7 linked regions of the Homo sapiens genome follow. The protein of the gene in region 2 interacts with the protein of the main gene of each other region in a pairwise test. Each region holds a gene or a part of one and is shown on either strand. Other genes may lie near its edges. The genes, in order: POLR1B, GIT2, SAFB2, RUSC2, SH3GLB2, KCTD5 and QPRT.

What was found.
Region 1: the proteins of GIT2 (region 2) and POLR1B interact in a two-hybrid assay, tested with the Homo sapiens proteins (one large-scale study listed by BioGRID and IntAct).
Region 3: the proteins of GIT2 (region 2) and SAFB2 interact in a two-hybrid assay, tested with the Homo sapiens proteins (one large-scale study listed by BioGRID and IntAct).
Region 4: the proteins of GIT2 (region 2) and RUSC2 interact in a two-hybrid assay, tested with the Homo sapiens proteins (one large-scale study listed by BioGRID and IntAct).
Region 5: the proteins of GIT2 (region 2) and SH3GLB2 interact in a two-hybrid assay, tested with the Homo sapiens proteins (one large-scale study listed by BioGRID and IntAct).
Region 6: the proteins of GIT2 (region 2) and KCTD5 interact in a two-hybrid assay, tested with the Homo sapiens proteins (one large-scale study listed by BioGRID and IntAct).
Region 7: the proteins of GIT2 (region 2) and QPRT interact in a two-hybrid assay, tested with the Homo sapiens proteins (one large-scale study listed by BioGRID and IntAct).

The regions. Positions count from the first base shown.
Region 1 is NC_000002.12:112,548,965-112,552,464, forward strand, and holds part of POLR1B (DNA-directed RNA polymerase I subunit RPA2), read left to right. Parts: intron 1-302; coding exon 303-435; intron 436-1,901; coding exon 1,902-2,038; intron 2,039-2,810; coding exon 2,811-3,034; intron 3,035-3,500. UniProt on the Homo sapiens protein: Catalytic core component of RNA polymerase I (Pol I), a DNA-dependent RNA polymerase which synthesizes ribosomal RNA precursors using the four ribonucleoside triphosphates as substrates.
Region 2 is NC_000012.12:109,947,869-109,951,368, forward strand, and holds part of GIT2 (ARF GTPase-activating protein GIT2), read right to left. Parts: intron 3,449-3,500; coding exon 3,299-3,448; intron 979-3,298; coding exon of another isoform or gene 955-978; exon of another isoform or gene 1-954. UniProt on the Homo sapiens protein: GTPase-activating protein for ADP ribosylation factor family members, including ARF1.
Region 3 is NC_000019.10:5,591,777-5,595,276, forward strand, and holds part of SAFB2 (scaffold attachment factor B2), read right to left. Parts: intron 2,403-3,500; coding exon 2,115-2,402; intron 1,112-2,114; coding exon 971-1,111; intron 18-970; coding exon 1-17. UniProt on the Homo sapiens protein: Binds to scaffold/matrix attachment region (S/MAR) DNA. Can function as an estrogen receptor corepressor and can also inhibit cell proliferation.
Region 4 is NC_000009.12:35,542,111-35,545,610, reverse strand, and holds part of RUSC2 (AP-4 complex accessory subunit RUSC2), read right to left. Parts: intron 1-3,500. UniProt on the Homo sapiens protein: Associates with the adapter-like complex 4 (AP-4) and may therefore play a role in vesicular trafficking of proteins at the trans-Golgi network.
Region 5 is NC_000009.12:129,021,832-129,025,331, forward strand, and holds part of SH3GLB2 (endophilin-B2), read right to left. Parts: intron 593-3,500; coding exon 451-592; intron 1-450.
Region 6 is NC_000016.10:2,689,023-2,692,522, reverse strand, and holds part of KCTD5 (BTB/POZ domain-containing protein KCTD5), read right to left. Parts: intron 1-3,500. UniProt on the Homo sapiens protein: Its interaction with CUL3 suggests that it may act as a substrate adapter in some E3 ligase complex. Does not affect the function of Kv channel Kv2.1/KCNB1, Kv1.2/KCNA2, Kv4.2/KCND2 and Kv3.4/KCNC4.
Region 7 is NC_000016.10:29,682,180-29,685,679, reverse strand, and holds part of QPRT (nicotinate-nucleotide pyrophosphorylase [carboxylating]), read right to left. Parts: intron 1-3,500. UniProt on the Homo sapiens protein: Involved in the catabolism of quinolinic acid (QA).

The sequences.
Region 1 (3,500 bases), on a different chromosome or scaffold from region 2:
AAGACTGAAGTCATTTTAGGGGACAGAAAGGCAAGATAGGTTGAGCCTGTCTGATAAAGAGAAGTACCCTGTTTTTCTTCCATACTTTTTTCCCATGTCCCTAGGACCTTTGTAATATACTTGAGAAAACTGTTAATTCACACAAAGACAGTGTCTGTGTACTGTTTTCAAGGGATCAGTAGTACATTTCACCTCTGTGTTCCTATTCTGTGTGTTGTACTACCTTTGGCTAGGAGTGAGGTTCATGTTTACAGTTAGTCATGTATCTTTGTTTAACAAGTTGCAATTCATCTTTTTGGCAGGAAATGGGGGGCTATTTTATAATCAATGGCATTGAAAAAGTCATCCGAATGTTGATTATGCCTCGGAGAAATTTTCCCATTGCAATGATAAGACCAAAATGGAAAACCAGAGGGCCTGGTTATACTCAGTATGGTAAGTTCTGGAGATTATTAGAATATTTTTTAAGGAAAATTTAAAACTTTTTTTTTTTTTGAAGTAGATGCATCCAAATGGTCTTTGATATTTTTGTTTCTTTTTTTTTTTTTTTTTGGTAGGGATGGGGTTTCACCACGTTGCCCAGGCTGATCTCGAACTCTTGGGCTCAAGCAGTCCTTCTGCCTCAGCCTCCCAAAGTGCTGAGATTACATGCATGAGCCACCGTGTCTGGTCTTTCTTTTGTTTTTTGTTGTTTTTCTATTGAGCATTCTTGTGTTAAGTTTTCATAATTGGGATGGAAGAAGAAATGGAGAGATGTTAGTCAGAGGATACAGACTTGCAGTTACAAGATGAATAAGTTCTGGGGATCTGATGTACAGCCTGGTGATGATAGTAATACTGTACTGCTTAAAATTGATGAGTACATTTTAAGTGTCTCAACCACACACGCGTGCACACGTACTACAAATGATAACTATGGTGATTGATGTTTTCATCAGTTTGATTGTGGAAATCATTATAATATATGTATATGTATATTCAAGGTATTGTACACCTTGAATATATATGATTTTTATCAATCATAAGCATTTTAAAATTCACTTTTGCTAACTGAAAGAGCATGTGTATTTTTGTTACTACTTATGAAGATGAAAGCTAGTCTGGCTTGGCCATAAGTGGGTGTGGGTCTTGGCTGTCTTCTGGTTCAGGCTGCTGCACTTTTGCAAACTGAAAGAGCATGTGTATTTTTGTTACTACTTATGAAGATGGAAGCTAGTCTGGCTTGGCCATAGGTGAATGTGGGCCTTGGATGTCTTCTGGTTCAGGCCACTGTGGTACACCCCTCAGGGTCTCTGTCTGACAGCCACCTGGCCTCTGTTGGAACATTCTCTTTGACAATGCCTAAGACAGCATGTTGTATTCTTGAGCAACCCTGACAGTTAAACAATTTGTCCTGATAGTTGAGCTAAAAATCAGACCTTAATTATAGCCATACATACTATACCTAGAAAAACAGCATGCCTGAATGTCTAGTGATTTTCTTTTGCATCAGTTGATGGTAGTATGTCTTAGCAGTCTTTGCCTGAAACTGAAATAAAATCTAAAATTCTACTTTTCTCCATTGGAACTATTAGATCAAGCACCATGTCTTGACCAGACTCCACAGTTTAAGGCAGATATAAAGTGCTAAAAGATGTGGACTCTGTCCTGGAGGGAAACTTTGAAGTTTGCTTAAATTCATAGTTTCGGTTATTTTACATTAGTGTTTCTCAATCTGGGTAGATTTTGCATGCAAGAGGACATTTGCTGAGGTTTAGAAACATTTTTGATTGCCAGTCTTGGCTAAACTTAGTGATTTGGCTTTAATTGTGTCTAAGAGGTTAAGATTGTTCAGAAAGAAAATGGTTGAAGCAATTAAGATATCAATGAGTTTCTGATTTTTTTGTTGTTTGGTTCAATAGGAGTTTCAATGCACTGTGTGAGGGAAGAACATTCCGCTGTCAATATGAACCTCCACTACTTGGAAAATGGCACTGTTATGTTGAACTTTATTTACCGAAAAGAACTGTTCTTTCTTCCTTTGGGATTTGCACTTAAGGTATGACTTAATGAATGCATTCTTTTGTTATGAAGAAATTCACTGGGGGTAGTATCCTGTGCACATTGGATGGATTCTCCTTGTTAAAATAATACTGTACTAGTTGTCTACTGCTCCAAAACAAATTACGTCAAAATTCAATAGCTTAAAACTCAATAACATTTCTGTCTCACAGTTTCTGCGGGTCGGGAGTTTGGGAGTGCTTTGGCTGGGCACTTGTGGCCCAGGGTCTCAGGAGGTTGCATGGAGATGTCAGACAGGACTGCAGTCATTTTCAGGACTTCCAAGGTGGCTCACTCACATGGCTGGCAAATCTGCTGGTTGGTGGCAGGAGGTCTCCTCATGGGGTTGCTCTCTACATGGCCCTTTCTGTAGGCTGCTTGAGGCAACTGTCTTCCTCCATATAGTTAGCTGAGAGAACAGAGAGCAGAAGATGCAGAAGGAAAAAGCTGCAGTGCCCTTTGTGATCTAGCCCTGGGAGTCTCCCATTATCTTTTTCACCACATTCTCTTGGTCAAGCAGGCCAGCCTTGATTCGGCATGGGAGGAAACTACACGTTTGTGAACACCAGGAGATGAGGACCCTGGAGGCAATTGTGCTGTCTGGCTATCATACAAAGAATGCTTTATTTTAGAGAGTTTACTTTGATTCAGCAATAGCAGAGTGCTAATTTTCCTTGGGTATTAAAAAAATGAGAGAAGATAATTATTAGTGAATAGATAAAGTATTTTAGTTATTAGTGAGCAATTAAACCTTTTATTTTCTATTCTAGGCACTTGTCAGCTTTTCTGATTATCAGATCTTTCAGGAGCTCATCAAAGGAAAAGAGGATGATTCTTTCCTTAGGAACTCTGTTTCTCAGATGTTAAGGATTGTAATGGAAGAGGGTTGTTCGACACAAAAACAGGTCCTTAACTACCTAGGTGAATGCTTCAGAGTAAAACTCAATGTTCCTGACTGGTACCCAAATGAGCAAGCTGCGGAGTTCCTGTTTAAGTATGTGTGCTTTGTCTAAACTGTTTTTGGAGGGGCGGAGGGCTGTCAGTGGTTCTTTGTATTGGTTGCAGTTTGGGCGGGCGAGTCATTTGGGAATGAGAATGAATCTTGGGGTAGAATCCTGGTCCTTGCTAGCCGGGGGCTACCTTTGTTTTTGCGGCCCTCCTCACTTGTATTTTTTTAGTAGTCGTGTTTTATTTTATAGTACTTTTTAACTTTTATTTTGAAATAATTTCAGACTTCCAGAATAATGTCCAAATAGTACATTGGATTCTAATTGTGAACATTTCATTCATTTACATTTACTTTTTTACTTTCTGTGTACACAGATGTACATTTTTCTTTCTGTACAATCCCTGAAAGTTGCAGGGATTGTATCACTTTATTTCTCCAAAGCAAGGACTTTGTCTTATATAACCACTGTATAATTACTAAAGAAGCCAGCTCCATACTGGTGCTGTCCAGT
Region 2 (3,500 bases):
ATCATTAAAACATCATTTAGGTAACTTGCTTTTCAAATGAGCCCTGAGCAATTTGTAAAGGCCAAAAATGACAGCAGACACCATGGAAGCAGCACAAAGATGACTAGGGTTGCTTTGCAAAGCAAGAAAGACAGAAGTTCAGCTTGTGAAAAATCAGATCGCCTATTGCTTTCCAAAAAGCCAACAAGAAAAATTATGATCAACAAGTTTTTATTACATAATACTCTTGATATTCCAAACAATTCAGCACTTTGTAAAAAAAAAAAGAAAAAAGAGAAAACCGGATCATGGTAAGTTTGCTATATTAACATATCACGAAGAAAACTGGAAACCTATTGATCTATGGAATTGACATCTTCGCATGGATGCTCCACGCAGCACGCTTGCTTCCGTCTGGTGAGTGATCATCTTTCGGCCAGGGCTGGAATATTTGGCCTTTCTCTCCTTTGGCTTTGTCACCCAAAAAACACGACCTCAGTGGTGTCAGCTTTGAACATGCTAATCTGCCTGGCACCACCCCATTTTAGAGACTGTCACTTGGAGGCCCTGAATGCTCCTTCCATTCCTCACATGCAGGCTGCTCCATGGTGCTGGATGGATTAGAGTTAAGGGGTCAGCAGGGAATCGTGTTACTCTTTGGCATCTGGCATTTTAAACACCATTCACCACGTCCATTCTGCGCAGGGTCCTTCCCTTCTGGTGCGCCTTCATCTTCCATGGACATTCTATAAGCTGGGTGTGGTGTGAGTTCAGCTGTCTACTCTTTGACAGAGATTGTAAAATCTGACCAAATTCCCCACCAGTGCCAAGGTTTAAGTCCACAAGCAACTGTTTGCACCAGAAGATCATTACTTTTTCAGTAGCAAACCCATTCAATGTTAGGAGTTACTTTCAATTTTTATTTAGAAAGCACCAATCTGTGAAAAATACACCAATAGTAGTTGCTCCTCTTCATTAATTAGCATCTTTTCCAAGCAACTGTTAAATGTGAAAGATCAGATACAAATCATGCTACTTTGTCAACTTTATGTATATTAAAAACTTTACCCAACTTTGAAATATAATCAATACATCTTTGCTAAATAAACAAATTCCATATACTTTATATTAATCATGCCAAACTGCTGTGAAAGTGTGACTTACTGCCTCTTCCACAAAAAGACCACTCATTCTGTTTCTCTGAAGAGCAAGCCATTACAGAATGATAGAATGCTTTTATATCACAAAGGCTGGCAGGGTATAGCTCATATCTGCAATTCCCTTTCCAGGGAAAGAACAGCTGCAAAGCAGCTGACAAAGCAGCCCTGAACATTTCTACATTCCAGGATACAGACAGGCATGAAGTGCCTGTTGAAACTATTCATTAGAGAACCCAGGGCCTAGAGTGAAATGGTCAAGGTTCAAGGACTGAGGTGTGTAACTGACACAGGTCCCTCAATGGGGCACTGGTGCATGTGATCACGTGTTTGTCTGTATAAAAAGCCTCTGTGGCAGTTATTTAGTTAAGGCCTTGAAATCTGAAACTTTATCCTAACACTTTTCATGCCTGGATTTTGTCTGAATGTGTTCTCATGAGCACAAGTTCTTGGTTTCAATTTTTAAAAATGTTAGTACTCTGTATTTAGAGAGATGTCTTCACATAAATTTTAATGACGTTTATCTTAATAAGAACCAGGCTACACTTTTTTATTTGGAAGGAGTATAAGGGAAAATAAAAAGTTATAGACAATTCAATAGTTTCAGAAATCAAAAGCACTTCTAAGAATTGATGAGATAATCAATAAGCAAAAGCAAATAATTTCACTTTGCATTTCTCAAAGAAGCTCAAGACATTTGCTTTCAGAGATAATGAGGCTCTCTCTGGTGATTTCCAAAAATACTAAAAGAAGCATTGTTAGATTTTAAAAGGTGATGTGCAGCAGATTGATTTACAGTGGCAAAATCAGCATGTTTCAGAAATAGTCACCTGGTCAAAATTATTAGTCCAATTAATGGAACAAACTATAATCCACTAAATAAAATATATTCCAAAGAAGGCAAAGAAAATACAGGTCCTGTATGTTATGACAAAGGGGCTCTCGGTCTGTCTCGTTTACAGCTGCACGGCAGCCCTAGACAGGGCTGGGAGACACAGAACAAGTGTCTGTTCGTTTAAGGCTAGCTGATCTTAAGCATTCTTCATTCCCTGCTACTATAGGCATTAGAGCCATTTATTTCAAAAAGTCTCAAAAATGCTCTAGAAGTCAACATCAAAAGAATCCTAGACCAAACCCCAGGCAAAAGTGCACAGCAATTTCCTTCCCTAGTAAACAGAGGGGCATGGGCCCCTTTTTAGTTCTTCCACCTTCCTTTAGGAAGCAGCACTGAAAAGAGTCCAGGCACACATGGAGTGTGCCACGTCCTCAGGTCTTGAAAATGATTTGAAAACCTTACTTCTCAAATGACAGCCTAAAGACATAGATTATATATTTCATTTTGTTTCTGGTTAAGTAAAGTGTCCAAATCTCATTTTAGAGCTGAATGATGAGTGATACCCACAAAGTCATGGGCAAAATTTGCAATTTTTCGAATTCCCTTATTTAGCCATCTCATAAGGAGTTGCATACACAATCCCCCTCCTACTAAGGGTATTCCTTGCTACCATCAACCACACTCCTTTTAGGGATTAATATATTCACACGGTTCTGATTCTCTCAAAAGGTAATGAATGAGAAAATGCTGAGCAAATGAGATTGTTTTTTACCAGTGTGCAGCTCTTCCTAGTACAAATGAAATGTTTTTTCTTATTTTTTGAGCACCTACTCTGTGGCAGGCCCTCCTGTAGGCTCTGGGGATAATACAAGTTAGTAGTAAAAACTGGTGAGCAATAAGGTGGGGATGTGGGATAGGGCTGCCAGGGTGGGAGCAGGGTTTGAATGCTGATAAACATGCCCCTGCCCAGGGCTCTCATTGGCTCTGTCTCCATGGTGTGATCATCCTTCCCTAGCAATGGGAAGAATCACATCCATGGAGCCCCATCCAGGTTTCCAGGAAGCACAGAATAGTCCAAGGGTTATTCTAATGGGCACAAATGCTTAAATAGATGTTAGGTTTCTCCTACCTGGGGAACTTACTCTGGATATATTTCATTTTAAATATCCAAATACATCCTGCTTCAAAAAGACAACTTGGCCCAAAGATTTCTAAGGCTGTTACAATAACTGTTTTTCTTTCCTCGGACCACATCACAGTGCCTGAGATTCTTCCTTGTACTATGGGATTAAAGCGTCAACCGTCCTGGCATTTATTAACATGTTACCTTTTTCTGCATAATTCTCAGCTCGTCACTCAAGTTGTTATTCACCTTCATTAGCTGCTGTATCTTGGCCTCAGAAGCCACTAGAGCGTTTTTGACCTCCATAAATTCCTGTACAGTGACTGGTCCATCTGATAAATCTGAATCTAGGCTCTAAAAATAAATTGGGAAAACGTTCACAATCTGAGATGACGAGAACATTAAA
Region 3 (3,500 bases), on a different chromosome or scaffold from region 2:
GCCTCGAACCCTCCCGCCTGCAAAAGGAAAAGATCCCGTTCAAACAGCACCAGGCACGACTACACATTTCTGCAGGTCAGGCAAGTTTCGCGACTGGGATACTTTTTCCATCCCATCACATAAAAACTATAACTGGCCTGGGAAAAAAGGAAAAAGCTAGCTCAAATCGAAAGGCTTTTCCCCGGGGGCAGAAACGAAGTTGGATCCTAAAGAGGTAGGAATAAAGATCTCACTGAACTAAAATTCCTCGGGGAGCTCTCAGTTAGGGGAACAGGGACAAACAGAGGCCTCCAATGATCCCTCATCTTTGGTCTGACCCAATGCGTGGGACTCATCAAAATTCACACCAACTCCACCCCAAACTCCAGCAGAATTAAGAGTGTGGCCTCTCAGCCTCCCTTTCCTGTTCTCCCCGCTCTGACATTCCGACTGAAGGAGCCAATGAATGGGGAAATGGGTCAGAGATGTGCAGCCGAGGGGAGCCCAAAGACAGGATTCTTACACTGGAAAACCAAGGGCTGCCTTTTTAATAAACTAGATGTATTCCTCATTTTAAAAGGCTAAAAAACCCACCCAGACCCTCGAAATACAAAACAGGCCTCATGAGAAATTTTGCACGTCCTCCATCAATTCTCTGGTAGCTCTTGGGCACAACCAGGTTGTGCTGACAAACACTGCTGCCTCACAAGAGAGCTCAGTGTAGATGGCCTGCACTCAGGCCCCTCCTGGCCCACCTATGAAAAGAGTCGGTGGATGGAATGAGCTCTGAGATGCCTTCCTCTGAGGTAAGCTGGGGATTCCAGCAACTCGCTCAAGTTCTGTGCAAGGCCAGAGTCATCCACTGTGGATCTCAGAAGTAAACGAGGCTTCAGAGCACACAGGAACCCCTGCACTGGGCTGAGAACGAGGTCAGCTGGATGCCCCGGTGCCCACAATGACTGTAGCTAAAGGAGGGGACAAGACCACTGACCTGTCGATGGCGTGGTCCTGGTACTGGCCCCGGTCTCGATGATCGAAGTCGTGAAAGCGGTGGTCTGGCCGGGGAAAGTCTGCACGATATCGGTCCTCCATTGCCACACGCTTTCCTTCTGGCCAATAGGCATCATCTCGTCTGTTGGTTTTTATTTTAAAAGAATACAAATTCCATTAATGAGAGAGGAGGAGGAAAAAAGGAGGAGGTGGAGGTGGGGAGGGGAGCTCTCTCCCCAGACCCAGTATCGTTTAAAATGTCCTGCAGGGCTAATCTCTAAACATTCGATCATCATTGCTTTGATCTGATAAATTAAAACCGCCATTAACAGCCGAGAGGCACACTTGTGTTCTCATCCAACAGTCCCAAAAGGAGCACTGCTGTGAGCTCATTGTCTCGTGAGGCTGTTATTACCTTGATCCCCCCTCATGAGCAACTGAAAAGAAATATTTGATTCTTCTGGAATAGCATTCGAGTTGCCACACTTTTACTTTCCCTGCCTTCCACGGGAGCCTGAATCTCCCTCTGAGTTTCTTGCAAAAGCAAAGAGAATTAGATGGGGTGATAGTGAACTACACACAGCTCTGGACGGCATCCAATTATCTTCTTCCTGATTTTTACCAGAAAACTAGGCTCACGGAGAGCGGGGTGAAGGGTGACTGTCAATTAAGCCGCCTGGGGTAGCTAGAGACCAATAAACCTACTTTCTAAATCAGAGGCAATTTCCTTTTCCACAGCGCCTGCTCTGCCTCTCTGTCTACAAGGACACATGAGACCGGCAGAGTCAGCGGTGGCCAACTTGGGCCTAACGGGCGTTCGGTTGTCTCGCAAGACAGAGAACAGCTATGCTCCACGGGTAAGTGGAGAGGAAAAGCATCACAAACCCTTCAGCAAGTGGCAGCCATCAAGTTTCCCAGAATAACTCAAGTTCAGGAAGATGCTACACAGCCTCCGGTGAGGACAGCGAACTAATAAACCTGCAGCAGCGCAGTGAGATCGGCGGGGGGTCCCCAAGGCGCATGCTCCATATCAAATTTCATTCTCCCCACCGACAGGGACGGAAGGGAAGCCGCTGTTCTGCTGGAAGGGTGAACACCGCTGCCACGCTGGTCTCCGTCCTGCCCACGCTCTGGGCGGGACTCACCGGTCCAGGTCGTAGGGCCTCCGCCCGGGCCGCCGCTCCTGCTCGTAACGCAGCTGCTCCTGCTGGCGCCGCAGCTCCTCGCGCTCGCGGTGGATGCGCTCCTGCTCCTTCCTGCGCTCACGCTCCACGCGCATGCGCTCGCGCTCCAGCCGCTCCCGCTCCATGCGCTCCCGCTCCAGCCGCTGGCGCTGGCACTCGAGCTGCAGGCGTTCCCGCTGTAGCCGGGCCTTCTCCTTCCGCTCATGGAAGGCCTCGAGGCGTTGCTCCCGCTCCCGCTGCTCGCGCTCCCTGCGGGGACAGGTGAGGCTGCCCTGAACTCCCTGCGTGAGCCTCCAAGGAGAAAGCCCGGTGCCCAAAACTGGGTGTGTATTGGAAGCAGAAAAAAAAAATGGATCCAAAAGCTCACCGGGCTTCCCTAAAGCTGCGCGTGCAGGGGGTTACCTTACTTAACAAAGCTACCTTAAGAAAAGCAAAGGCAGCACAGCTGGCAACATTTCTAGGTTTGCTCGAGAACATTTTCCAAATGCTGTGAGCACAGCTTTTGCTTTACTGAGCAATATTTGAGGAAAAGTGACAAGAGAACGCCGGGCATCCCGACATGAAAAGGCCGAATGTCAAGGCAGAGGGACAAGCCTCCTTCAAGACCACAGCCCAGAAGGGAGCCGCGGCAAAATGACAACTGGACTCTGCTTGCAGTTTCTGACCTTAGGTGAAAGGTTTCAACAGGGAAGACAGGCCTCAGCACCCAGGCACCATCCCATCCCATCAAAGCCACACACGGCTGGGCCTTCCACACGGGCCAAGGTCCAACATCAGAGGAGGGGCGAAAATAGACTTTGAGCCAGCAGAAGGCTCAGCCTGTAATCCAGCACTTAGGGAGGCTGACGCAGGAGGATCGCTTGGGCCCAGCAGTTATCAGCCTGGCAACATAGCCAAACCCCATATACTGTAAAGGGCTTTGATGACTTCTTTTTAAGAGACAGGGTCTCACTCTGTCACCCAGTCTGCAGTGCACTGTTGTGATCACAGCTCACTGCAGCCTTGAGCTTCTGGGCTCCAGCAATCCTCCCACCTCAACCTCCTGAGTAGCTGGGACTACAAGTGCACGCCACCATGCCCAGCTAATTTTTAAATATTTTGTAGAGGTGGGGTCTCGCTACATTGCCTAGGATGGTCTTGAACTCCTGGCTTCAGGGGATCCTCTGGCCCTGGCATCCCAAAGTGCTCGGATTACAGGTGTGAGCCACTGCACCTGGCCCTTTGATGACTTTCATGCCACCTGGCATGTCTGGCGGCTCACGTGTGAACAGGTGCTGGCCCCTGCCTCGAGGACCCAGGTTAAGCACGACACCCGCCAGCCCAGGCACTGGCTCTCGGGCACACAGA
Region 4 (3,500 bases), on a different chromosome or scaffold from region 2:
GACATCCTGAAGTGCCCAAATGCTGCCCAGTTTTAGCTTAGAACCTTCACTACTGGGATCCACTAGAAAGTCTTCTCTTCCCAGTTTTACCTCTTATAGGCTAAAGCAAAGTTCTCTCTTGTTCAAGGTCTCCTGGTGCCAAGGACACAGAACCCATCCTGAGCTTCTCTGGTCTCTTGGCTGCACCGTGGCAGTGTGGCCTGCTCAAGTTCTAGTCTCCTGTGTTTCCACGTTCAGGTCGCAACAGTCTTCATTCCCTTCGACTCCTCACATGTAATGTTCCAAAATTCATTCATTTCCTTTCTCTTTTTATTCCTATCATTTCCTTTTCACTCACCCTGAGTCTAAATCCCTCATTGCCTTTCTCTTATTCATCATTTAACTGAATCCTTGACACAATCAATTTCTTAAAATTTAACTCATGTAGACCATAGGGTCATAGCTCGTCATGTGGAATGTGGTAAAGTCTGAGGCAAGTCACATATGCTCAAGGACATGAACAAACAATGCATAAAAAATATGGCTAATAAGTATACGTATAAGGGACAAGGTATTAAAATATAATTGTGTTAAATTTAAGCAGCAATTATTTACAATCTTGCTTCCTCCTCCCCTTTCTGAGAGGAAGGCAGGCTCCTCTGTTGAACTTCCAAGCCTTTGTGTGTTTAATGGGCTAATGGGTAGAGATGTAGAAGGGCAGATATTAAGAGAGTCTGAGCTACAAGATTAAGGGTTACAGAAGAAAACATAGGAGTAAATCTTTGTTATCTTGGATTAGGTGATGGTTTCTTAGATATGACACCAAAGGCACAAGTGACAAAAGAAAAAACATAAATTGGACTCCATAAGAACCAAAAACTTTTGTGCTTCAAAGGATACCACCAAGAAAGTGAAAAGACAATCCATAAAATGGGAGAAAATATTTGCAAATCATATACCTGATAAAAGACTTCTAATCAGAATATATAAAGAACTCTTACAACTCAACAATAAAAAGACATACGAGGCTGGGCACAGTGGCTCACGCCCGTAATCCTAACACTTTGGGAGGCCGAGGTGGGAGAATCATGAGGTCAGGAGACAGAGACCATCCTGGCCGACATGGTGAAATCCCATCTCTACTAAAAATATAAAAATTAGCTGGGCGTGGTAGTGCATGCCTGTAATCCCAGCTACTTGGGAGGCTGAGGCAGGAGAATCGCTTGAACTAGAGAGTCAGAGGTTGCAGTGAGCTGAGATCATGCCACAGCACTCCAGCCTGGTGACAGAGTGAGACTCTGTCTCAAAAAAAAAAAAAAAAAAAGACATATGATCCAGTTTAAGACAGGGCAAACAGTATGAATAGGCATTTCTCTGAAGAAGACATACAAGTGTCTAACCAGCACATGAAAAGATGTTCAACATCATTAGTCATTAGAGTAATAAAAATCACAATGAGATACTACTTCACTCCAGCTGGGAGGGATAAAATAAGAAATACAGACAATAACAACTAGCAAATGTTGATGATGATATGAAGAAACTGGAACCCTGAAACATTGCCGGGAGTATTGTAAAATGGTGCAGCTACTTTGGAAAAGTCTGACAGTTTATCAAAATGTTAAACATAGTGTCATCACATGACCCAGCAACTGCACTCCTGGGTATATACCCAAGAAAAATGAAAACATATGTTCACACTAAAGCTTGTACACAAATGTTCATAACAGCATTATTCACAGTAGCCAAAAAATTGGGCACAATCGAAGCCAGTCACAAAGGGCTTTTGTGATGTTGTATGATTCCATTTATATGAAATGTCCAGAATAGGCAAATCCATAGAAATAGAATGTCCTGAAATCAGGCCAGGCGTGGTGGCTCATGCCTGTAATCCCAGCACTTTGGGAGGCTGAGGCGGGCGGATCATTTGAGGTCAAGAGTTCAAGACCAGCCTGGCCAACATGGTGAAGCCCTGTCTCTACTAAAAATACAAAAATTAGCCAGGTGTTTGTCACCATTTTTGTAAATAAACATGTCTGTATGCATAGAAGAAAATCTGTAACATGCAACAAACTGTTACCAGTGCCTATCACTGTTGAATGATTTGGATTATTTTTAATTTTATTCTTTTTGCTTCAGCTGTATTTTCTAATTTGTATGTAATAAATACCCATTTTATGCATAATTTAAGCAATTTTTTTCTTTTTTTTGAGACAGGTTCTCACTCTATCACCGAGGCTGGAGTGCAGTGGTGCGATCATGGCTCACTGCAGCCTCAGCCTCTTGGACTCAAGTGATCCACCTCAGCCTCCTGAGTAGCTAGGACCACAGGTGTGTGCCACCACGCCTGGCTAATTTCTGTATTTTTTGTAGAGACATGGTTTCTCCATGTTGCCAAGGCTGGTCTTGAACTCTTGGGCTCAAGTTATCCACCTGCCTTGGCCTTCCAAAGTGCTAGGATTACAGATGTGAGCCACCATGCCGGGCCTAAACAATTTTTTTTCTTTGAGGGGGTTTCTCCTTTCATACATAACTACGTTTCCCCTGGAGTCCTGGCCATAATCCCGAGTCTGGACTAAAAGGAGCATAGAGAACTTTCTTACATAGATAGCAGTAATTTTAGGGGTACCTATGGGTTGCAGCCATCACTGACCTTCAATGAGTACCTTTTCTTCCTTTTTAAAGCATTTTCAAGAGGCATTCACAAGTATCACATAAAAGAATGTATGATTCTGCCACAAAACCATTACCAGGACATACATGCATTAATATGGAAAAACTGATGTACAGATACAGAATGCAGAAAGCTGACTCTCTAAATCAGAGATGAAGAACACATGAGCGTGGGAGATGACGGAGCCCTTGGCTGGAGGGCACTGACAATTGTATTGTAATGTGATGTTGACATATCTATCTCCCAGACTGGAGCACAGTTCTGAGGTTGGAGACTGCAATACAGTGAACTCTGTGCTTGGAACACAGTAGGTGCCTGGTTATTTGTTGACTACTTTTCCCATTAAAATAACCTGAGTTGTTAGTCTTTTTATGATTGAATTATAGGAGTTTTAACATTTATTCTGGATACAAGTCCTCTGTCAGATATATGCCTCATGAATATTTTCTCTCAGCCTGTGGCTTGTCCCTGTTTTCTTAACTGTGTTTTTTGATAAATAGTTTTTAATTTATTAAATTTAAATTGATCAATTGATCAACTGATCATAGAGTTTGTTTCTCTATGGTTAAATCTTTCTGTATCCTAAGAAATCTTTACCTGTCCTAAGACCATAAAGAAATGTACCTATGTTTTCTTCTAAAAGCTGTATAGTTGTAGCTTTTACATTTAGGTTGTATTGAATCCTACTTTAACTGTCAAGCTCTTTCACTGATTGATTTCATTTTATTTTATGCTTTTGTATCTCAGAGAAGATCTTATTCCTTTCTGATCTCCACACAACCAAGAGAAAGGCCGAGCAATGGCTCCTCCATAGACGATTCCAATTCAGCCATCTAAGGGGAAGTTC
Region 5 (3,500 bases), on a different chromosome or scaffold from region 2:
GCCTGTAGTCCCAGCTATTCAGGAGGCTGAGGCAGGAGAATCGCTTGAACCCAGGAGGCAAGGGTTGCAGTGAGCCAAGATTGCACCATTGCACTCCAGAATGGGTGACAGAGCAAGACTCCACCTCAAAAAAAAAAAAAAAAAAACCAACAGAGTGACCAACCAGGTGTGTGTTTTGCCTGCCTCTTCTCCCACGTGTGTTTTAGCTTCCAGGCATTTTAACTCTTCTGTGCAAAACTCAGTGTTTCCACTGCCCTGGAGTGTCTGGCAGCCCAACACAGAGTCCCCCATTTTCTTTTAACTGTCCCTCTTCAACAGCCTTGAGCCCAAGAGTCTAGCTGAAACCCCGGCTGCAGCCCCGCCCCACCTATGCCACAACAGGGCCAGGCCTCCTACTGTATCCCTGCCCCACGACTACATCCCTCCCCGGGCCCACGAACACGCACTCACTGGGGTTGGGCTGCAGCAGCACCTCTGTCTGCCTCAAGATCTTCTCTGTCCAGTTCTTGGTGCTGTCTGCCCGGGCCAGAAGGTTTTCAAAGTGGGCATCAAGCTCAGTCTTCTCAGCCTGGCCAAATTTCTCCTCCGTGAACTACGCAGAGGGGAAGGCCAAGGGGTGGGGAGGGGGAGAGCTCAGAAGGAGGTGGGGGAGTGGTGGGGAAAGGGAGGACTGCCCCTCCCCACCAGCAGGAACCCAGGCAGGCCCCAGGGTCAAGGAACCAGCCCTGAGTGTGATACTGTGTGACCTGGCAGGGCCTCACTGTTTTCCCCTTTGTGAAATGAGGTGGCTGGGCCAGAGTGTGGGAATCACAGCTTCTTTTGGAAATCCAATGAAAGCTACACTCTCTCCCCACAAAAATGCACCTTCATATACAATCTGGCACACAGCTTAGTGCGGTGAGGAACCCTGGGGAGGCCAGCCCTAGGGTCCTTTGAGTCTGACTCTGAAGGAGAGGACTTGGTAGAAAGTACTCGGGACAAACAGGGCAGGGAGTAGGGTCTGGGGTTATCAGGGGGCTCCATGGGCAGCTGGGAGCTGCTAGGGAGAGGGTGCCAGAGGAGGGAGAGGAAGAACCCAGGGTCGGGGTTCAGAAGGACCTGATTCAAGTCTTAGTTCTGCCACTGTCAAGATGTGTGACTTTGGGCAAGGGGCTCTGCCTCTCTGAGCATTGGTTTCCTGAGCTGAAAAAAGGGAATAATAGCACCTCCCCCATAGGTTATGAGGATGAAAGAGGAAAGATGTGGGTTAGACATAAAGGCTGGGTCGGCTACAGTGCTGCTGCCCCACGTAAGGCACCGGTGCTATGAGCTGATGGGTGCAGAGACGTCTGGGAAGGAAGGGGAATGCAGGGAGGGAGGATGGCCAAACGGTTGGCTTTGGCCACCTGGTAGGGTAGATGGAAACACTGCCAGCCTATCAGAGCCAGCGGCTGGGCACACCCAGGGCCCGGATGTCGCATGGGTCCCCATCAAAGCTGGCAGAAGCCGTGGGGGCTACCTAGGAACAACCAGAAACTGGTCCAAGTCCTGGCCCCTCTGATCTAAGAGGGCCCTGGAACACATGTCCCCATTTTCCAAACGGGGACACCAAGGCCTTCTCTAGCTAAGAGAAAGGGCTTGCCCAAGGTCACAGCCAGGGTGAAGACCTGCAGGAGTAAGATAAGGAACAACAAACACTGTTGGCCAGCCCTGTCCTAAGGGTTTCCTCATGACCTCATCAACCTCTAATGCAAGGAGGGCTGTTTCCCATTTCACAGATGCTGCCACTGAGGCTGAGCAAGGGGCAGGGCCACGCAGGAGTCGGTCAGCCATGAATCATCCCTGGCTGCAGTTGGCTCCAGCTGCGGTGGGGGGTGGCGGGCTGGGCGGCCACCAGGAGCTCAGCAGCCATCAATTATGTAGCAGAGCTTGGGTTTCTCCCTGCAGGGCTGGGAGGGCCCAGCTGCCAGGGGTATGGCCTCAGCTCCTGCCTGGGGCCAGCTGCTCCTGGCCTCCCTCCCCCACCCTGGCTGGCTCTGCCTCCTCTTCCTCGTCACACTCCCCAAAATGAGACCTTCCAGAGCAGAGGCTCAGATTTCCTCGTGGCTCTATTACCTCACCCAGTCCTTTGAGGGGGGTGGCGTTCACCCCATTTCCCAAATGAGGAAACCAAGGCTCGAAGAGGCAAAGTCTCCCTTCTGGACCTGAGAGCCCCTGCCTGGAGAATGCAGATAACAGGATCTAGTTCATTGGCTATTTGGCCAGCACACAGTATGGGGCTGATACATGTTAGCTAGTATTATTATCACCATCATTAATGAAAAGCCTTGGCTAGGTGCAGTGGCTCATGCCTATAATCCCAGCACTTTGGAAGGCCGATGTGGGCAGATGGATTGAGCCCAGGAGTTCAAGACCAGCCTGGGCAACCGTGAGACCTCCTCTCTACAAAAAAAAAAAAAAAAAAAAAAAAGCCCGGCACGGTGGCTTATGCCTATAATCCCAGCACTTTGGGAGGCCAAGGCAGGCGGATCACGAGGTCAGGAGATCGAGACCATCCTGGCTAGCAAGGTGAAACCCCTTCTCTACTAAAAATACAAAAAATTAGCCGGGTGTGGTGGCGGGCACGTGTAGACCCAGTAACTCGGGAGGCTGAGGCAGGAGAATGGCATGAACCTGGGAGGCGGAGCTTGCAATGAGCATCGCCCCACTGCACTCCAGCCTGGGCCACAGAGTGCGACTCAGTCTCAAAAAAAAAAAAAAAAATTAGCTGGGCGTGGTGGCACCCACCTGTAGTCCCAGCTACTCAAGGGGCTGAGGTGGGAGCCCAGGAGGCGGAGGTTGCAATGAGCCAATATCATGTCACTGCACTCCAGCCTGGGTGACAGACCAAGAACCTGCCTTAAAAAAAGAAAGACTTTGGGAGGCCGAGGTGGGCGGATCACGAGGTCAGGAGATCAAGACCATCCTGGCTAACACGGTGAAACCCCATCTCTACTAAAAATACAAAAAATTAGCCAAGCGTGGTGGCAGGCGCCTGTAATCCCAGCTACTCGGGAGGCTGAGCCAGGAGAATGGCATCAACCTGGGAGGTGGAGCTTGCAGTGAGCCGAGATCACGCCACTGCACTCCAGCCTGGGTGACAGAGCGAGACTCCATCTCAAAAAAAAAAAAAGACAGCAAGGAAGCCAGGCATGGTGGCTCACGCCTGTAATCCCAGCACTTTGGGAGGCCAAGGCAGGTGAATCACGTGAGGTCAGGAGTTCGAGACCAGCCTGGCTAACATAGTAAAACCCCATCTCTACTAAAAATACAAGAATTAGCATGACGTGGTGGTGGGCGCCTGTAATCCCACCTACTCGGGAGGCTGAGGCAGGAGAATTGCTTGAACCGGGGAGGCGGAGGCTGCAGTGAGCTGAGACTGCGCCAGCCTGCGTGACAGAGTGACTCCGTCTCAAAAAAAAAAAAAAAAAGGCCAGGCATGGTGGCTCATACCTGTAATATCAGCACTTTGGGAGGCCGAG
Region 6 (3,500 bases), on a different chromosome or scaffold from region 2:
ACAATTGGCAAGTGGAAGACCAGCTGCAGAGGGAAGCTACCCTCTCTGCTGAGAGCTGGGAAGTCAATGGAGAGGAGCCAGCCAGTCCGGGGCCGCTTCTCTGCTGAGAGCTGCCAACTGAATGAGCCGACCTGCCTACAGAGAGGAGCTGCCCCCACAGTCTCCTCTGCACTGTCCCAACACTTGGTAAAGCTTCTCTTCGTCATGCTCACCCTCCACTTGTCTGCTACCTCATTCTTCCTGGACGCAGAACAGGAACTTGGACAAAGGTGCTGCCGGCCAGAGACGTTTCTGGCCAGAAAAGCGACACCCTAAAGACACCGTATCAGCAGGGCTGGGCACATCCAGACACAGGGACGTGGAGCTTTGCAAGGCCAAGTTTACCAGCCGGAGCCATGGCACCTTTCCAGGGTGCCTGAAGAGAGATCCTGCTGGCAGTGAGAGCTCTGGCCACAGTGGCTAGGCTCTGCCCAGCTCGTCTCAGTCCCTGGAGCTCAGGCTCCTGACAGAGGGACCAGGAAGCCCCCGGACGCACCTGTGTGGGAACCGCACGCCCCAGGAACCTTCCTGATGCGCTTTCCCTGCAGCCTGTGGCTCCAGCCCATCCCTGTGCTCAGGGGCCAGCAGCCTGGGTGCAAAATACCCAGCCATCAAAGGCAGGGGAGGCTGAGGCACCGCGGGGGACCCCACGTGCATCCAGTTAGGAAGAGACTTGAAAGGAGCAGCCTCTGGAAGACTTCCAGGAGTCCAGATGCTTGTTGCCAACCTCGCTGGGAGCCAAGGCTGCAGGGCAGAGGAGCAGAGAACCCCAGCTGCGTCTACCAAGAACCTGCCAGCCGCTCCACACCCCCGCCGCCCCAGTGCCTCCAGGACAGTGGGCTTCCTATGGGGCCCCCGCCACAGTACACTCCTCCCACGTGGTTCAATTCTCTGAGCCCCACGACCTCTGGGCCCATGCAGGACCTACCCAGGCTGCGTGGACTCGGCGCGCCGGGCCTGCAGCTGCCCCCACAGCCCTCTCCCGGAGTGACACTGCAGAGCCCTGCGTGGCCCTAGAACCCAGCTGAGCCGCCGGGCACCAGAGGCTGAAGGGCGAGCAGTAGGCTGAACCCTTGGTGGGAAATTCCAAAACTGGCTCTTCTGTGGCTGGCCTCACAGCTCTCCGGCCGTTTCTTCCCATGGGTTCCTTCTAACTGGTGGGTTTCCTCGAGAAACAGGCCCTGTCTGGGCAGAGCGGAAGGTCAGGGACATCCGCACCAGGGCGGGGAGGCAGTGGCGTGTGGAGGTGCTGCTCTCACCACTGCTCTCTTTGAAGCTTTCAATGAGAGATTTCCACATCCATAGGAAGTGCCAGGGTCTTAAACCAGGACCCCCAAATCCCACCAGGGTTCGGGTCTCGCTGTGGCCTGACTCGCTTCCAAGCATGTAGGCAGGGTCTTGGTGCTCCCAGCTCGGGTGAGCCCACATGTTCCAGATCGGCCTAATGTGTGCGGGGGCTACTCGTGGTGCCAGCCCAGGCCCAGACAGTGCCCAGCCCAGGCGCGAGGGCCTCGGCAGCTCACTGCTGGTGTTGGGGATGTGGATCAGCCTCCACCCTGATGCAGAAACAACAAAAAAATATGGAACATGGGAAAATGGGAAACACAAAATCATACAAAATTCAGGATATACTCCGAGGCTCATGGAGACAAAGGCAGCAAGGTCACCTCGGGGAGGTTTAGAACAGCGTCTGGGCCAACCTAGGCAGGGCCCCTGTGCTGCCCGTAAGGCCATCAGCGGCGCCTGCCCAAGCCCCCATGACACGAGGAAGGAAAGATGCCCCGGCCCGCTCACGCCTCTACGACTGGGATGAGGAGAGGCGGCCAGGAAGCCAGTGAGATGCTGCGGGCTGGGCGTGGGGGTGCTCTTCTTCCTGGCTTTCTCATACGTTCCACGGCTTACACAACCAGCACAGGCTGCGCTTGATCTCAGGAAGGTTCGTGGTGGTTTTTTTCTAAAACAGCCATAATTAAGACTGTTTTATTGACAAGTCATTTCCCTCATCTTCCCCGCGTCTCACTGAATTGGCATCTGACCTACTTGTGGCCGGGCCCAAGCTGGCATTGAGTGGGCCCAGCAGGCTGGGCTGAGCCACCCATCTCCAGAGGTCCCAGGCTTCAGCCGGAGCCACAGGACGTAGGCCGGGCAGGACAGTTGCCAAACCACAGAGGAGAGGGCGACCCTGGCCACGGGAGCACATGGCAGACAGCGCCGAGCCAGGGCACACACAGCCCTGGCAGACGGAGGAAGACTCCGCAGACAGAGCTGACTGCTCGCCCACTCCCCAGGTCCACAGGGCAGCCGCAGATGGACGTCTGGTCAGGAGAGCAACACTCAGAGAAGTGTGGTAACAAGACTGGCCGCTCTGCTCATCTCACCAGACTCCGGCTGCAGCTCTCCGCCATCCATGCTGTCACCCAGCAAAGCACCGGGGGCAACGTGGGGGTTCCCCAGCCTCTCAGGGACAGGTCCCTAATGCAACCAGCAGCCTTGAAAATGGCAGTGAAGGGCTGGGCACAGTGGCTTACGCCTGTGATCCCAGCACTTTGGGAGGCCAAGGCAGGCGGATTACCTGAGGTGAGGAGTTCAACACCAGCCTGACCAACATGGTGAAACCCTGTCTCTACTAAAAATACACAAATTAGCCAGGCATGGTGGAGGGTGCCTCTAATCCCAGCTACTAGGGAGGCTGAGGCAGGACAATCACTTGAACCTGACAGCCCCGTTGCAGTGAGCCAAAATTGTGCATTACACTCCAGCCTGGGCGATCCAGTGAGCCTCTGTCTCAAAAAAAAAAAAAGAAAAGAAAACGGCAGTGAGGAATGAGGGTGGAGACTGCCAGGCTCTCACGCCAGATTCTGAACCCAACATAACCCTGCTGCTGCCCAACCCTCCCGCAGCTCCCAGAGCTCTGCAAAGAGGGTCGGCCCTGCGGCTCTCAGTCATTCCCGGTGCTCGGAGACACGTGCCACCAGAGGGGAACGAAATCAAGAGGGTGCAGTGCCCTGAGCCAATCCAGGAGATAAACTCTGTCAAATTGCCCCACAGAAATCTAGACGCGAAGGCATAGAATTTCCTGTGCACCAACATCTGCAATCAACCTAATTAGAAATACTTAGTTTTTACTCTGAAATTATCCATTTCAAGTGACTCTGTTTCAATTTCGCACACAAAACCTTCACCTCTACTCTCTCTTCTGTTTTGTTTTATGCAGCTGTGGCATATCTTTGGCCCACAAGAGGACTTTGATGTCACCAATTACTAATGGGGAAACTGAGGCCAGAGACCAAGGAGGCTTGTCCAAGGCAGCCAGATTCGGAGAGCAGGGTGGGGCCCCTGTGCCCTGGTCGCCAGGCCTGCTGCCTCCCCACCACCCTTCCCTTCCATTGCTTCTCGGCCTCACCCAGCATAGAAACTGGAATTTGGGAGGTCCCTGCCCCACACATGACTCAAAGCTTAGT
Region 7 (3,500 bases), on a different chromosome or scaffold from region 2:
GTTTTGCTCCAGAAGGGTCACTTCAGCCACCAACTGGAGACAGATTGGGAGGCAAAAGAAGGCTGAGGTAGTCTTGGCCAGACAAAAAGTAGGCTGGGCGCGGTGGCTGTCACCTGTAATCCCAGTGCTATGGGAGGCCAAGGCAGGAGGGCCACTTGAGGCCTGGGCAACATAGTGGGACCCTGCCTCCACAAATAATTTTTTTTTGTTTGAGACGGAGTCTCACTGTCGCCTGGGCTGGAGTGCAATGGTGTGATCTCAACTCACTGCAACCTCTGCCTCCCGGGTTCAAGTGGTTCTCCCGCCTCAGCCTCCCGAGTAGCTGGGATTACAGGCATGCAGCATCATCCCTGGCTAATTTTTGTATTTTTGTAGAGATGGGGTTTCACCATGTTGGTCAGGCTGGTTCTTGAACTCTTGACCTCAGGTGATCCACCTGCCTCGGCCTTCCAAAGTGCTGGGATTACAGGTGTGAGCCACTGCGCCCGGCCAACAAATAATTAATTTGAAAAAATATTTTCAAAAAAACCAAAAGAGATGGAGCCCTGAACTTTGACAGTAGCTCTGGGGTAGATTTGAGGGCTATTTCCAAAAGGGGATCTACCAGAATTAGTAGCTAAAGAGATGTGGGAGCCTTGGGCCTCTGGCCTGGGTAGCTGAGAGCTGGCAGAAGGAGTCATTCCAGGAGAAGAGCAGGCAGGGTGGAGGTGGGACAGCAGGAGGGGGCGGTGACCCCACTGAGTGCCATGGCGTGCCAGCCATGGCGTGCCAGCCGCGGGCACCCCTGTTCCCCTTTGTGCTCTCATCTGGAGCTCACCACAGGGATTCTTCCCATTTCACAAGAACAGAAGCTGAATCCCAAAGCGTTTCCTGAATCGTGGCCTGGTGAAACAGCTTAGCTTCTGCAGAGCTCGAGAGAAAGAACGGATTTGGTTTTGCAGAGGTTAAGGCTGAGGCGGCAGCAGGAGATGTGGATGGTGGTGCCCAGAGGGTGGTAGGGAATGGCTCTGGAGTTCAGAAGAGATGCTGCCGTGGCCAGGCGCGGTGGCTCACGCCTGTAATCCCAGCGCTTTGGGAGGCCGAGGCGGGAGGATCACGAGGTCAGGAGATCAAGACCATCCTGGTGAAAACGGTGAAACCCCGTCTCTACTAAAAATACAAAAATTGAACTCCGGGGCCAACATAGCAAAACCCCGTCTCTACTAAAAATACAAAAATTAGCCAGGCGTGGTGGTGGGCGCCTGTGATCCCAGCTACTCAGGAGGCTGAGGCAGGAGAATCGCTTGAACCTGGGAGGCAGAGGTTGCAGTAAGCCGAGATAGTGCCATTGCTCTCCAGCCTGGGCAACAAGAGCAAAACTCCGTCTCAAAAAACAAAAGAAAAAAAGAAAAAGTTAGCTGGGCATGGGGGTGCACGCCTGTAGTCCCAGCTACTCGCCAGCTACTCGGGAGGCTGCGGCTTGAGTCCAGGAGTTGGAGGCTGCAGTGACCTGTGATTGCACCACTGCACTCCAGCCTGGGTGACAGAGCAAGCCACGGTCTCTAAAATAAAATAATAAGATAAAGAACCCACAGGGCATGTCCAACAAAAAGAGAAGCATCATCAGGAGTGGGTACCTGGGAAGGAGAAGAGGGTTTTGGGAGGTGAGCAGAAGTAAATAGAAGGAAGACTGAGGATGGGGCTCTGCACTTAGCAACTGTGAGGCCTGTGCCAGAGCGGTTTTTGTGCCATGTGTCGGGGGCAGAAGCCACATTGTCATGCTCGAGGAGCGCACGGGAGGTAGGGAAGTGGGGGTGTTGGTGTGAACCACTCCTTTCAAGAGAAGTGGACACAGTGGGGCCTCTGCCTGGGCTGCACACCAGAATCACAGGGAGCTTTTCAAACTTTCAGATGCTCAGGCCCATTCCAACCCAGTGAACCAGAATCTCTGGGGGTAGTTTCCAGGGATCCAGGTTGGGGAAGAGCCAGCCCCCACCCTGCTCTGTGACTCAGATGCACATGAGGATCAAGAATCAATGCTCGGCCAGGGGCGGTGGCTCATGCCTGTAATCCCAACACTTTGGGAGGCCGAGGCAGAAGGATCGCTTGAGGCCAGGAGTTTGAGACCAGCCTGGGCAGCATAGTGAGAACCCATCTCTACAAAAACAATTTTAAAAATTAGCTGGGCATGGTGACACACGCCTGTAGTCCTAGCTATTCAGAAGGCTGAAGTGGGAGGATCCCTTGAGTCCAGGAGTTGGAGGCTGCAGTGAGCTATGATGGAGCTACTGCACTCTGGCCTAGGCAACAGGGTGAGACCCTGCCTCAGGGAAAAAAAAAAAAGAACCAATGCTCTCATAAGACCACATATTGGCTGGGCGTGGTGGTCACACCTGTAATCCCAGCACTTTGGGAGGCCAAGGTGGGCCTAAGATCACCTTAGGTCAGGAGTTCGAGACCAGCCTGGACAACATGGTGAAGCGCTGTCTCTACTAAAAAAATACAAAATTTATCCATGTGTGGTGGTGCACGCCTGTAATCCCAGCTACTCGGGAGACTGGGGTGAGAGAATCGCTTGAATCTGGGAGGCGGAGGTTGCAGTGAGCCGAGGTTGCGCCACTGCACTCCAGCCTGGGCAACAGAGTGAGATTCCATCTCAAAAAAAAAAAAAAAGAATCAGTCAGGTGTGGTGGCTCATACCTGTAATCCCAGCACTTTGGGGCATTTGAGACCAGCCTGTGCAATATAGTGAGACCCCTATCTCTAAATTAAACATTTTTTAATCAAAAAAATAAAGTTTCAAAGACTCTTAAAACATACTAACCAATCACAAAGTGTAGATTTTACTTAGATCCTAATTCAAACAAACTAAAAGCAAATTAGGCTATTTATGAAACCACTGGAATCTGGACATTGAATGTTTGATAACACCAAGGAAATTTTTAAAGTTTAGTTTTGACAATAGTATTGTGGTTGTAGTAAAAAGAAAAGTCTTTATCTTTTAAGAAAAAAACATGATGAGGCTGGGCGCAGTGACTTGCGCCTGTAATCCCAGCACTTTGGGAGGCCAAGGTGGGTGGATCACCTGAGGTGAGGAGTTCAAGACCAGCCTGGCCAGCACGGCAAAACCCATCTCTACTAAAAAAAAAAATGCAAAAAAATTAGCTGGGCATGGTGGTGGGCACCTGTATCCCCAGCTACTTGGGAGAGTGAGGCAGGAGAATCACTTGAACCTGGGAGGCAGAGGTTGCAGTGAGCCAAGATCACGCCATTATACTCCAGTCTGGGCAACAAGAGCGAAACTCCATCTCAAAAAAGAAAGAAAGAAAACATGCTGAGATGTTCACATATGAAAAGATTTGAGCCAGGCACGGTGGCTCATGCCTGTAATCCCAACACTTTTGGGAGGCTGAGGTTGGAGGATCGCTTGAGGCTGGGAGTTTGAGACCAGCCTGGGCAACACAGCAAGAACCCATCTCTAAAAAAAAAAAAAATTTATTTTAATTAGCCAGGTGTGGTGG